Linked DNA regions of Homo sapiens: region 1 is linked to region 2. Evidence: fine-mapped expression QTL. Tissue or cell type: cerebellum. Region 2 holds a variant in brackets; the other region holds the start of a gene. All regions are shown on one strand. Distances are from middle to middle.

What was found. PIP is the estimated chance that this variant, and not a neighbour inherited with it, causes the effect.
Region 1: PCDHA7 starts here. The variant in region 2 is the best candidate, but not a certain one, in a credible set for the expression of PCDHA7 in cerebellum (GTEx, PIP 0.61).

What each region holds. Positions count from the first base shown.
Region 1 is chr5:140,832,089-140,837,312 of GRCh38, forward strand. It overlaps PCDHA7 (protocadherin alpha 7), which reads left to right and starts at 2,181. Exons shown (of 4, transcript NM_018910.3): 1 at 2,181-4,650. The coding sequence starts at 2,296. The region is part of intron 1 of PCDHA1 (protocadherin alpha 1); the gene reads left to right. All of the region lies in intron 1 of PCDHA2 (protocadherin alpha 2), which reads left to right. All of the region lies in intron 1 of PCDHA3 (protocadherin alpha 3), which reads left to right. It also overlaps PCDHA4, PCDHA5, PCDHA6 and PCDHA@. RefSeq lists an enhancer at 3,474-4,121.
Region 2 is chr5:140,742,681-140,747,904 of GRCh38, forward strand. All of the region lies in intron 3 of LOC105378198 (a long non-coding RNA gene), which reads left to right. Among named protein-coding and RNA genes, the nearest start is that of PCDHA1, 41 kb to the right of the region's middle. The variant C/T (reference allele first, on the strand shown) is at 2,670.

The DNA of each region.
Region 1 (5,224 bases), 89 kb after region 2:
GCCATGTTCTACATTAAAAGCAATTTAAAATGTGTGTTTCAAAGTTGAAAATTGAATTAAGACTTGGACAGTGGAAAAGTTTTATGAATTCAAAAGACATTTAACCTGCTGAGTCCTCAGTGATTTCCTGGAGTTGGTTTTGACTTTTTGTGTTGTCCATGTTCCCAGGAAATATTAGACTACATTAAGCATGAATGGTGTATTTGCCCACATTTAAAAGTTGCTTAAGGGCCATTAGAGGACTGAGTTGTGGTTTGTGTTTCCTAATGTGAGCATTTTCCATTCTTGAAATGGCAGAAACTGGTAGTGGTATTTTCTGTTTTCTAAAAGAAGTACATGATAATTTTTAAGCGTGTAATTAATATTGCACTAAAATTTAAAAAAACTAACTCTACATACTTAAGAGTGGCAGAATTGTCTCTGATTATACTGAAGATCACCATTTGTGTAGCTAATGATATCTAACAGCCTCAAAACAGCATACTTTCTTAGGAAGTAGAGAACTATAGCGTTGCTAGTGAGTAAATGTTTTTTAAAAAGTTCCTAGGAGGGTCTTTAAGAGTATCACACTGTGCCTGCTGAGAATCATCGAATTAACAAGACCTGGCTTCAAATTTAATAGATAAATAAAGGTAAGTATCCTACATAAATACGATGATAGTAAAAGCAAGAATATTGTAAGAGGTGCTAGAAAGGTACATCATAGTGTTATTGGAATTGGAAAAAAATCTTTGCCTTTTTCCCTTGTTGAAGGAGACCGTGAAGAGTCATGATGTTTTACTGGTTATAAAATGGAAAGAGTTTTCCCTGGGAGAATATGGAGACTAACAGGTATTCATGAGAAGAGAGTAACTTAAGTGAGTATACAGAAAATTCCAAATGTACCTAGAAATGAGGAATAGTCCACTTTGGGTAAAGCACATGGTTCCCATAAGAGAGAGTGTGATATAAAGCAAGAAAAGTAATATGAGAAAAACCTTTTGTATAACTTTGAGTACTAGACGAGTAATTTTGACACTCTTCAAAGTCATTTGAAAGCTGTCAAAAAGTGTGAAGCAATACGAATAAAAAGTATTAACGGAAGATGACTGCAAGGATTAAATGAAGGAGAATGAAATAGGAATGGACAGGTTACACAATAAGAAGCTACTGCAATACACCAGGAGAGCAGCAATTATAAAAACTTATTTAGGAAAGCATCTGAATACAGACATAATTATTTTACATGCCATTGGGAACATTGGAGTGAAACATTCCAGAAAACGAACACAGTAAGGTAGATCCAAAAAGGATGAAATACCTCAAGACTTGATCAAAGGGCTGCTGTATGTGAGATGGCTGAGCACTGAAATTTATCTAATAAAATAAACTTACATTTTAAAAGAAATAATACAAATCATATTTGAGATTGTAAAAATAGGCATATATTCATAACACACAAGTGTTCGAAAGGATAGAATGAGGAAACAAATATAAAATGATGAACTCCTGAAACAGTATATATAGATTCTGCTAAAGCAAAAAATTCAGAATACTTCCTCCTCAAAAAGTTCACATGATACAAATTCTTCCCCTTCAAAGATTCCCCAAACCTTCTCTTATTTTGTTTTCCCAAGAGAAGTGTCTGGATAGTTGCTAATGTTTCTTGCCTCCTAAAAAGAAAACACACACACACACACCGCTTTCTAAGTTTCTCTTTCATCAATCAGTAGATTCTTGAGATCCTGGGTCCCTAAAAGAGTACAGGATTTTTCTTAACAAGCGATACTGAATCAAGAATATGAAGTTTCCTGGGATCTAGATCAAAGGAATTTAAACTTGCAGTTGTTTAAATTCATGTTGTCACTTAGGTTTCTATCTTTATTTAAAACTGTGTGAAAAAAAAGTTTTTCTAAGGCATGAGGAAGCTACAGTTCTGGTAACACTGAGTATTCAAAAGCCATCAGTCGCCTAAGAATGCTTCTAACAATCATGAGAAATGCTATTTTAACCTTTAACAACAATGAAGAAAAAAATTCAGAGTTTGAAATAAAACTTTTCATCTGATTAATAGTTTGTAATGGTTTGTAATTCTTACTTACATGATGGCCACATGATGTCGCTCTTTACCGCAAATTCTTTCGTAATCAGCAAAAGGAAGTCATTCCTTTTCGCACTGGAAAGACGCTCCACTCTCTTTCACTCTTTGGATGCACAACAATGGCCACACATCGAGATTGAAATGAAGGGATAAAAACATTCCTATAAATTCGAAGGCAAGTTTTGCTGACTAGAAAAACAAGCCAATAATTTGAAATGGTGTGCCCGAATGGATACGACCCAGGGGGCCGACATCTACTGCTGTTTATTATAATTCTAGCAGCTTGGGAGGCAGGGAGAGGCCAGCTCCACTACTCGGTCCCCGAGGAGGCTAAACATGGCAACTTCGTGGGCCGCATCGCGCAGGACCTGGGGCTGGAGCTGGCGGAGCTGGTGCCGCGCCTGTTCCGGGCGGTGTGCAAATTCCGTGGGGATCTTCTGGAGGTAAATCTGCAGAATGGCATTTTGTTTGTGAATTCTCGGATCGACCGCGAGGAGCTGTGCGGGCGGAGCGCGGAGTGCAGCATCCACCTGGAGGTGATCGTGGAAAGGCCGCTGCAGGTTTTCCATGTGGACGTGGAGGTGAAGGACATTAACGACAACCCTCCGGTGTTCCCAGCGACACAAAGGAATCTGTTCATCGCGGAATCCAGGCCGCTTGACTCTCGGTTTCCACTAGAGGGCGCGTCCGATGCAGATATCGGGGAGAACGCCCTGCTCACTTACAGACTGAGCCCCAATGAGTATTTCTTCCTGGACGTGCCAACCAGCAACCAGCAGGTAAAACCTCTTGGACTTGTATTACGGAAACTTTTAGACAGAGAAGAAACTCCGGAGCTTCATTTATTGCTCACGGCCACCGATGGAGGCAAACCCGAGCTGACTGGCACCGTTCAATTACTCATCACGGTACTGGACAACAATGACAATGCCCCAGTGTTCGACAGAACCCTGTATACGGTGAAATTACCAGAAAACGTTTCTATCGGAACGCTGGTGATTCACCCCAATGCCTCAGATTTAGACGAAGGCTTGAATGGGGATATTATTTACTCCTTCTCCAGTGATGTTTCTCCAGATATAAAATCCAAGTTCCACATGGACCCCTTAAGTGGGGCAATCACAGTGATAGGACATATGGATTTTGAAGAAAGTAGAGCACACAAGATCCCAGTCGAGGCTGTCGATAAAGGCTTCCCACCCCTGGCTGGTCATTGTACAGTTCTTGTGGAAGTTGTGGATGTAAATGACAATGCTCCACAGTTGACTCTCACTTCCCTGTCTCTCCCTATTCCAGAGGACGCCCAACCAGGTACCGTCATCACATTGATTAGCGTGTTTGACCGAGATTTTGGAGTCAACGGACAGGTTACCTGCTCCCTGACGCCCCGCGTTCCCTTCAAGTTGGTGTCCACCTTCAAGAATTACTATTCATTGGTGCTGGACAGCGCTCTGGACCGCGAGAGTGTGTCCGCCTATGAGCTGGTGGTTACCGCGCGGGACGGGGGCTCGCCTTCTCTGTGGGCCACTGCTAGCGTGTCCGTGGAGGTGGCCGACGTGAACGACAACGCCCCGGCGTTCGCGCAGCCCGAGTATACGGTGTTCGTGAAGGAGAACAACCCGCCGGGCTGCCACATCTTCACTGTGTCGGCGGGGGACGCGGACGCGCAGAAGAACGCGCTGGTGTCCTACTCGCTGGTGGAGCTGCGGGTGGGCGAGCGCGCGCTGTCGAGCTACGTGTCAGTGCACGCGGAGAGCGGCAAGGTGTACGCGCTGCAGCCGTTGGACCACGAGGAGCTGGAGCTGTTGCAGTTCCAGGTGAGCGCGCGCGATGCGGGCGTGCCGCCTCTGGGCAGCAACGTGACGCTGCAGGTGTTCGTGCTGGACGAGAACGACAACGCGCCGGCACTGCTGGCGCCTCGGGTGGGTGGCACTGGTGGCGCAGTGAGAGAGCTTGTGCCGCGGTCTGTGGGCGCGGGCCATGTGGTGGCGAAGGTACGTGCAGTTGACGCTGACTCAGGCTACAACGCGTGGCTTTCGTATGAGTTGCAACCGGTGGCGGCCGGTGCGAGCATCCCGTTCCGCGTGGGGCTGTACACTGGTGAGATCAGCACGACACGAGCCCTAGATGAGACGGACGCACCGCGCCACCGCCTTCTGGTGCTTGTGAAGGACCACGGGGAGCCCTCGCTGACAGCCACAGCCACCGTGCTGGTGTCGCTGGTGGAAAGCGGCCAGGCACCAAAGGCGTCGTCGCGGGCATCGTTGGGCATTGCAGGCCCAGAGACCGAGCTGGTGGATGTCAACGTGTACCTGATCATCGCCATCTGCGCGGTGTCCAGTCTGTTGGTGCTTACCCTGCTGCTGTACACGGCGTTGCGGTGCTCAGCGCCGTCCTCTGAGGGCGCATGTAGTTTGGTAAAGCCCACTCTGGTGTGCTCCAGCGCGGTGGGGAGCTGGTCATTCTCCCAGCAGAGGCGGCAGAGGGTGTGCTCTGGGGAGGGCCCACCCAAGACAGACCTCATGGCCTTCAGTCCCAGCCTTCCTCAGGGTCCATCCTCTACAGACAATGTGAGTCATAAATAATCTTGTTTCCAACAATTTTAAAACAATTAGTTCAATTGGTCTCCTTAAATTTTCTTTCATAATTTCTTTTTTAGTTGATAGCTTTATGTATAATTATTATTTTTTAATGTTATGCTGTATTTGCACTAATTATTTGGAAGTACGTTTAATATACACTTTTGTTTTGGGATGCGTAATACTATAGATCAAAATCTATGGTTTATGTTGGCTACTCTCCATTTTTGGAGGAGGACTTTGCTAACTGGAGCAATGGATTCACCTTTCTTCTATAGTGTATTTACAAAATCAAATATTTACATTTCCATATTTTGATAATCAATACCTATAAATGTTATAGTAAACAAATTTAATATATATGTTACCTAATATTTTATTCTATGTATTGTCCTCATTTTATAAAATATAGCTGTGTCAAAATCATCTGTTCAATTTTGCCTTTTTATCTTTAGTCTAGAACTTGAATTTTAAGCATTTCTTTTACATCTATTTATCTTCTTTTTATCATATTTGTGTAGCACTGACTTCTTTTTAACTTACTTTGTTGAGATGTATTTGCCAT
Region 2 (5,224 bases):
TTGTACAGAGGGCATCTCACTCTGTTGCCCAGGTTAGTCTCAAACTCCTGAGCTCAAGCAATCCTCTCGCCTTGGCCTTCCAAAATGTTGGGATTGCAGGCATGAGCTGCCCCATCTGGTTAAGAGTTTTTCTTTTGCCCAGGAATTTGAGCTATGCTGAAAACAGAAAGAAGTAATTCTAAGAGTAGCTTCCACCTGATTGCCAAGAGTTAGTGGCCAAGCCAGCTTTCTGATAACCAATCACGATATCACCCCCTTACCTTTCCCCAATCCCCAGTTTGTATAAAGACGGTACTAGGGAAAGGGATAGTTGTCAGAATCCTTGATAGTGGGTTGGGGGAAGGTTGTCACAGTGTGAGACCTTTCCTTTCATCTAGGGAGCCATGTGATGAGAAAGAATTCAGTAGGCCTCTGTGGAGAATGTGAGTGCCTGCAAGAAATGAAGAATGACATTTGGTACTTGGTTGGACAATTGGACTCATACATATATACATATATAATATATATATATATAATATTTTTTAAAGTCAGGAACCAATTATAGATCATGCATTGCTTTTAGTTGTCATGACATCTCTCCAGTCTCTTTAATCTAGACCAATCTCACCTGATATTCTTTTCCTTTTTGTGACAGCCAGTTTTAAAATAATTTTAAAAAGCTGTGGTAAAATCCATAATATAAAATTTACCATCTTAACCATTTTTAAGTGTACAGTTCAGTAATGTTAGGCACATTCACATTGTTGGGCAGTCAATCTTCAGGGCTGTCTTCTTGCAAAACTGAAACTCTATGCCCATTAAACAACAACTTCCCATTTTCCATCCTCCAGCTCCTGACAACCACCATTCTGTTTTCTGTCTCTGTGAATCTGACTACTCTAGGGACCTCATATCAGTGGAATCATATAGTATTTGTCATTTTGTAGTGTGATGGGATGATCTCCGCTCACTGCGACCTCCGCCTCCCGGGTTCAAGCGATTCTCCTGCCTCAGCCTCCCTAGTAGCTGGTATTACAGGCGCACACCACCATGCCCAGCTAATTTTTGTATTTTTAGTAGAGATGGCATTTTACCATGTTAGTCAGGCTGGTCTCGAGCTCCTGACCTCATGATCCACTGGCCTCAGCCTCCCAAAGTGCTGGGATTACAAGCGTGAGCCACCGTGCCCTGCCGGTAATTCTATTTTTAATTTTCTGAGAAACTGCCTTACTGTTTTCTAAAAAGGCTGCACCATTTTACATTCCCATTAATAGTGCACAAAGGTTCCAATTTCTGCACACCCCTTCCAACACTTATTTTCCCTCTCTTTCTGGTGTGAGATGATATTTATATGGTTTTAATTTGCATTTTTCTAATGATAATTGATGTTGGGTATTTTTTTTAGGTGAAAGCAAGTTTACTAAGAAAGTAAAGGAATAAAGAATGGCTATCCCCCAGGCTGAGCAGCCCCGAAGGCTGCTGGTTGCCTATTTTTATGGCTATTTCTTGATTGTATGCTAAACAAGGGGTGGATTATTCATGAGTTTTCTGGAAAAGGGGTGGGCAATTCCCAGAACTGAGGGTTTCTCCTAGTTTTAGACCATATAGAGTAACTTCCTGATGTTACCATGGCGTTTGTAAACTGTCATGGCACTAGTGGGAGTGTCTTTTAGCATGCTAATGCATTATAATTAGTATATAATGAGCAGTGAGGATGACCAAAGGTCACGTTCTTCGCCATCTTGGTTTTGGTGGGATTTGGCTGGCTTCTTTACCACACGCTGCTTTATTAACATGGTCTTTGTGACCTGTATCTTGTGCCGACCTCCTATCTCATCCTGTGACTTAGAATGTGACTGGGAATGCAACCCAGTAGGTCTCAGCCCTATTTTACCCAGCCTCCATTCAAGATGGAGTTGCTCTGATTCAAAGGCCTCTGACAGACTTCCTCCCTCCCATTTATTTATTTACTTATTTATTTAATTTGGAGACAGAGTTTTGCTCTTTTTGCCCAGGCTGGAGTGCAATGGCATGATCTCAGCTCACTGAAACCTCTGCCTCTCAGGTTCAAGTGATTCTCCTGCCTCAGCCTCCCAAGTAGCTGAAATTACAGGTGTGTGCCACCATGTCCAGCTAATTTTGTATTTTTAGTAGAGACGGGGTTTCACCACGTTGGTCAGGCTGGTCTCGAACTCCTGACCGCAAGTGATCCACTGGCCTCAGTCTCCCAAAGTGTTGGGATTATAGGTGTGAGCCACTGCACCTGGCCCCTCCCTCCCTTTTATAAGAAAACTCTTAATCCTAAGGGTTGTAGCAGGATGAAGATCCATGTTTTGTAACTTTTTCAGGCTGAATAGGGGCAATGATATTCCTGCCTAATTATTAGGGTCTCTTGTATTCAGGGTAGAGAGTAGCTCAATCAGAAAGCATCAGTATGTCAAGCACCATTCATAACCCTGAGTACTGATAAAAGGTGACATCTGGAAGATTAATAAGTGTTTAATTTGGGAAAACATTGAGTAAGCTTGTTCTGCATTCCTATGCAAAGAGCACAACACCAATATATTCCACAAAAGTAAAGCAAAATAAGTAAAGTTATCTCAAGTAAACTAAATAAGAAGGCTTTCCATAAGCTAGGCAACTGTTGGAACTGAGCTAATATGGAGTCACTAGCTGATTTCAATACATGC[C/T]CAGAATTAGAATATTGATCCACATTTTTATATCACCTATCCTTCTTGTTTCTTCTATCAGCCAGACACCACTGGTTGGTTTACAGGAATAAGCAGTCTAAATTGCAGACAAAAAACTCAAAAACAACTGATGAGACTAAAATCTGACAAAAGGTGTACCATAGTTCCTGAAACATATTTTTTCTCTCTCCAGTCTCCCATTTTTACTAAAGACAAATCATGGTAAGACCAATTTGCTTTAATATACTTGGCCTAATTATTTGTTTAAAGTGCAGCAAGAATAATTATTTGCCACATAGGCTTCTTTTAATTGGTTTTGATGGAACTCTGTTCCATAAAGAATCTCAGATAAGACTTTTTTTTTTTTTTTGAGATGGAATCTCGCCCTGTCACCCACGCTGGAGTGGAATGGTGCGACCTTGGCTCATTGCAACCTCCACCTCCCGGGATCAAGCAACTCTCCTGCCTCAGCCTCCTGAGTAGCTGGGATTACAGGTGCACGTCACCATGCCTGGCTAATTTTTTGTATCTTTAGTAGAGACAAGGTTTCACCATGTTGGCCAGGCTGGTCTTGAACTCCTGACCTCGTGATCTGCCTGCCTCGGCCTCCCAAAGTGCTGGGATTATAGGCATGAGCCACCGTGCCTGGCCTAAGTATTTTTTTTTTTTTAGATGGAGTCTCGCTCTGTCGCCCAGGCTGGAGTGCAGTGGCACCATCTTGGCTCACTGCAACCTCCGCCTCCTGGGTTCAAGCAATTCTCCTGCCTCAGCCTCCTGAGTAGCTGGGATTACAGGCGCCCACCACCATGCCTGGCTAATTTTTGTATTTTTAGTAGAGACAGGGTATCACCATGTTGGTCAGGCTTGTCTCGAGCTCCTGACGTTGTGATCCACCTGCCTTGGCCTCCCAAAGTGCTGGGATTACTGGTGTGAGCCACCGCGCCCGGCTAAGACTTTTTGTTGTTGTTGTTGTTGAGAGGGAGTTTCTCTCTGTCACCCTGGCTGGAGTGCAGTGGTGTGATCTCGGCTCACTGCAACCTCTGCCTCCCGGGTTCAAGCAATTCTTCTGCCTCAGCCTCCCAAGTAGCTGGGACTACAGATGCGCACCACCATGCCCGGCTAATTTTTGTATTTTTAGTAGAGACGGGGTTCACCATCTTGGTCAGGCTGGTGTGGTCTTGAACTCCTGAGCTCGTGATTGCTTTCCTCGGCCTCCCAAAGTGCTGGGTTTACAGGAGTGAGCCACCGCGCCCGGCCTCTCATTTTTTTTTAACAATTATATTGTACACCATTGACACTGTTCAGTAGATTCATCATATTTCATTCAGTCTCAGCTGATTACCATTGGGTTGTTTTCCAGTTATTTTATTATAAATGATGTCACAATAAATAACTTGGTGTATATAATGTTTAATATTTGTGAAGGTGTATATTTAAATTTTTAAAGATGGAATTGCTAGTTCAAAAGACAAATGCATTCATCATTCTTTGAAGATATTGCCAAATTACCTCCATTGTGGTTCTACCATGTTTTTCACTCCTACAAACAATACATGAGAATGCCTACTTTTCCACAACCTTATTAATAGAGCCTATTGTCAATTTTTCTAAATGTTTGTTCATCGGATTGATGAAAAATGATGTCTCAATGTGGTTTTAATTTGTATTCTTGTTATGGATGAAATTAAGCAAGTTATAATATGTTTAAAGCTCTTCTTTTTTGTTTTTGTTTTATACATTTACAGTACTGTACTGTATTTATCAATACTATAAATTTACAACATCTTTTTTTAGCTTATATTTTAAGTCCAGGGATACAATGCAGGTTTGTTATGTAGGCAAACTTTTGTCACAGGGGTTTATTGTACAGATTATTTCGTCACCCAGATATTAAGCCTAGAACTCATTAGTTAATTTTCCTGATCCTCTCCCTCCTCCTGTAAATCCCGGTGTCTTTTGTTCACCTCTATGTGCCCATATGTTCTCATCATTTAGCTCCCACTTAGAAGTAGGAACATGCAGTATTTGATTCTCCATTCCTGCATAAGTTTGCTAAGGATAATGGGCTCCAGCTCCATCCATGTTCCTGCAAAAATATGATTTCATTGTTTTTTATGGCTGCATAGTATTCCATGGTGTGTATATGTACTACATTTTCTTTATCCAGTCTACCATTGATGAGCATTTAGGTTGATTCCATGTCTTTGCTATTGTGAGTAGTTCTGCAGTAAATATGCATGTGTCTTTATGATAGAACAATTTATATTCCTTTGGGTATATACCCAGTAAAGGGATTGCTGGGTCAAATGGTAGTTCTGTTTTTAGCTCTTTGAGGAATTACTACACTGTTTTCCACAATGATTGAACTAATTTACACTTCTACCAACAGTGTGTAAGTGTTCTGTCTTCTCTGCAATCTCACCAGCATTTGTTATTTTTTCACTTTTTTTTTTTTTTAAGACAGGGTCTCATTCTGTTTCCAGGCTGGAGTGCAGTGGCATGATCACAGCTCACTGCAGCCTTGACCTCCCAGACTCAAGTGATCCTCCTGCCTC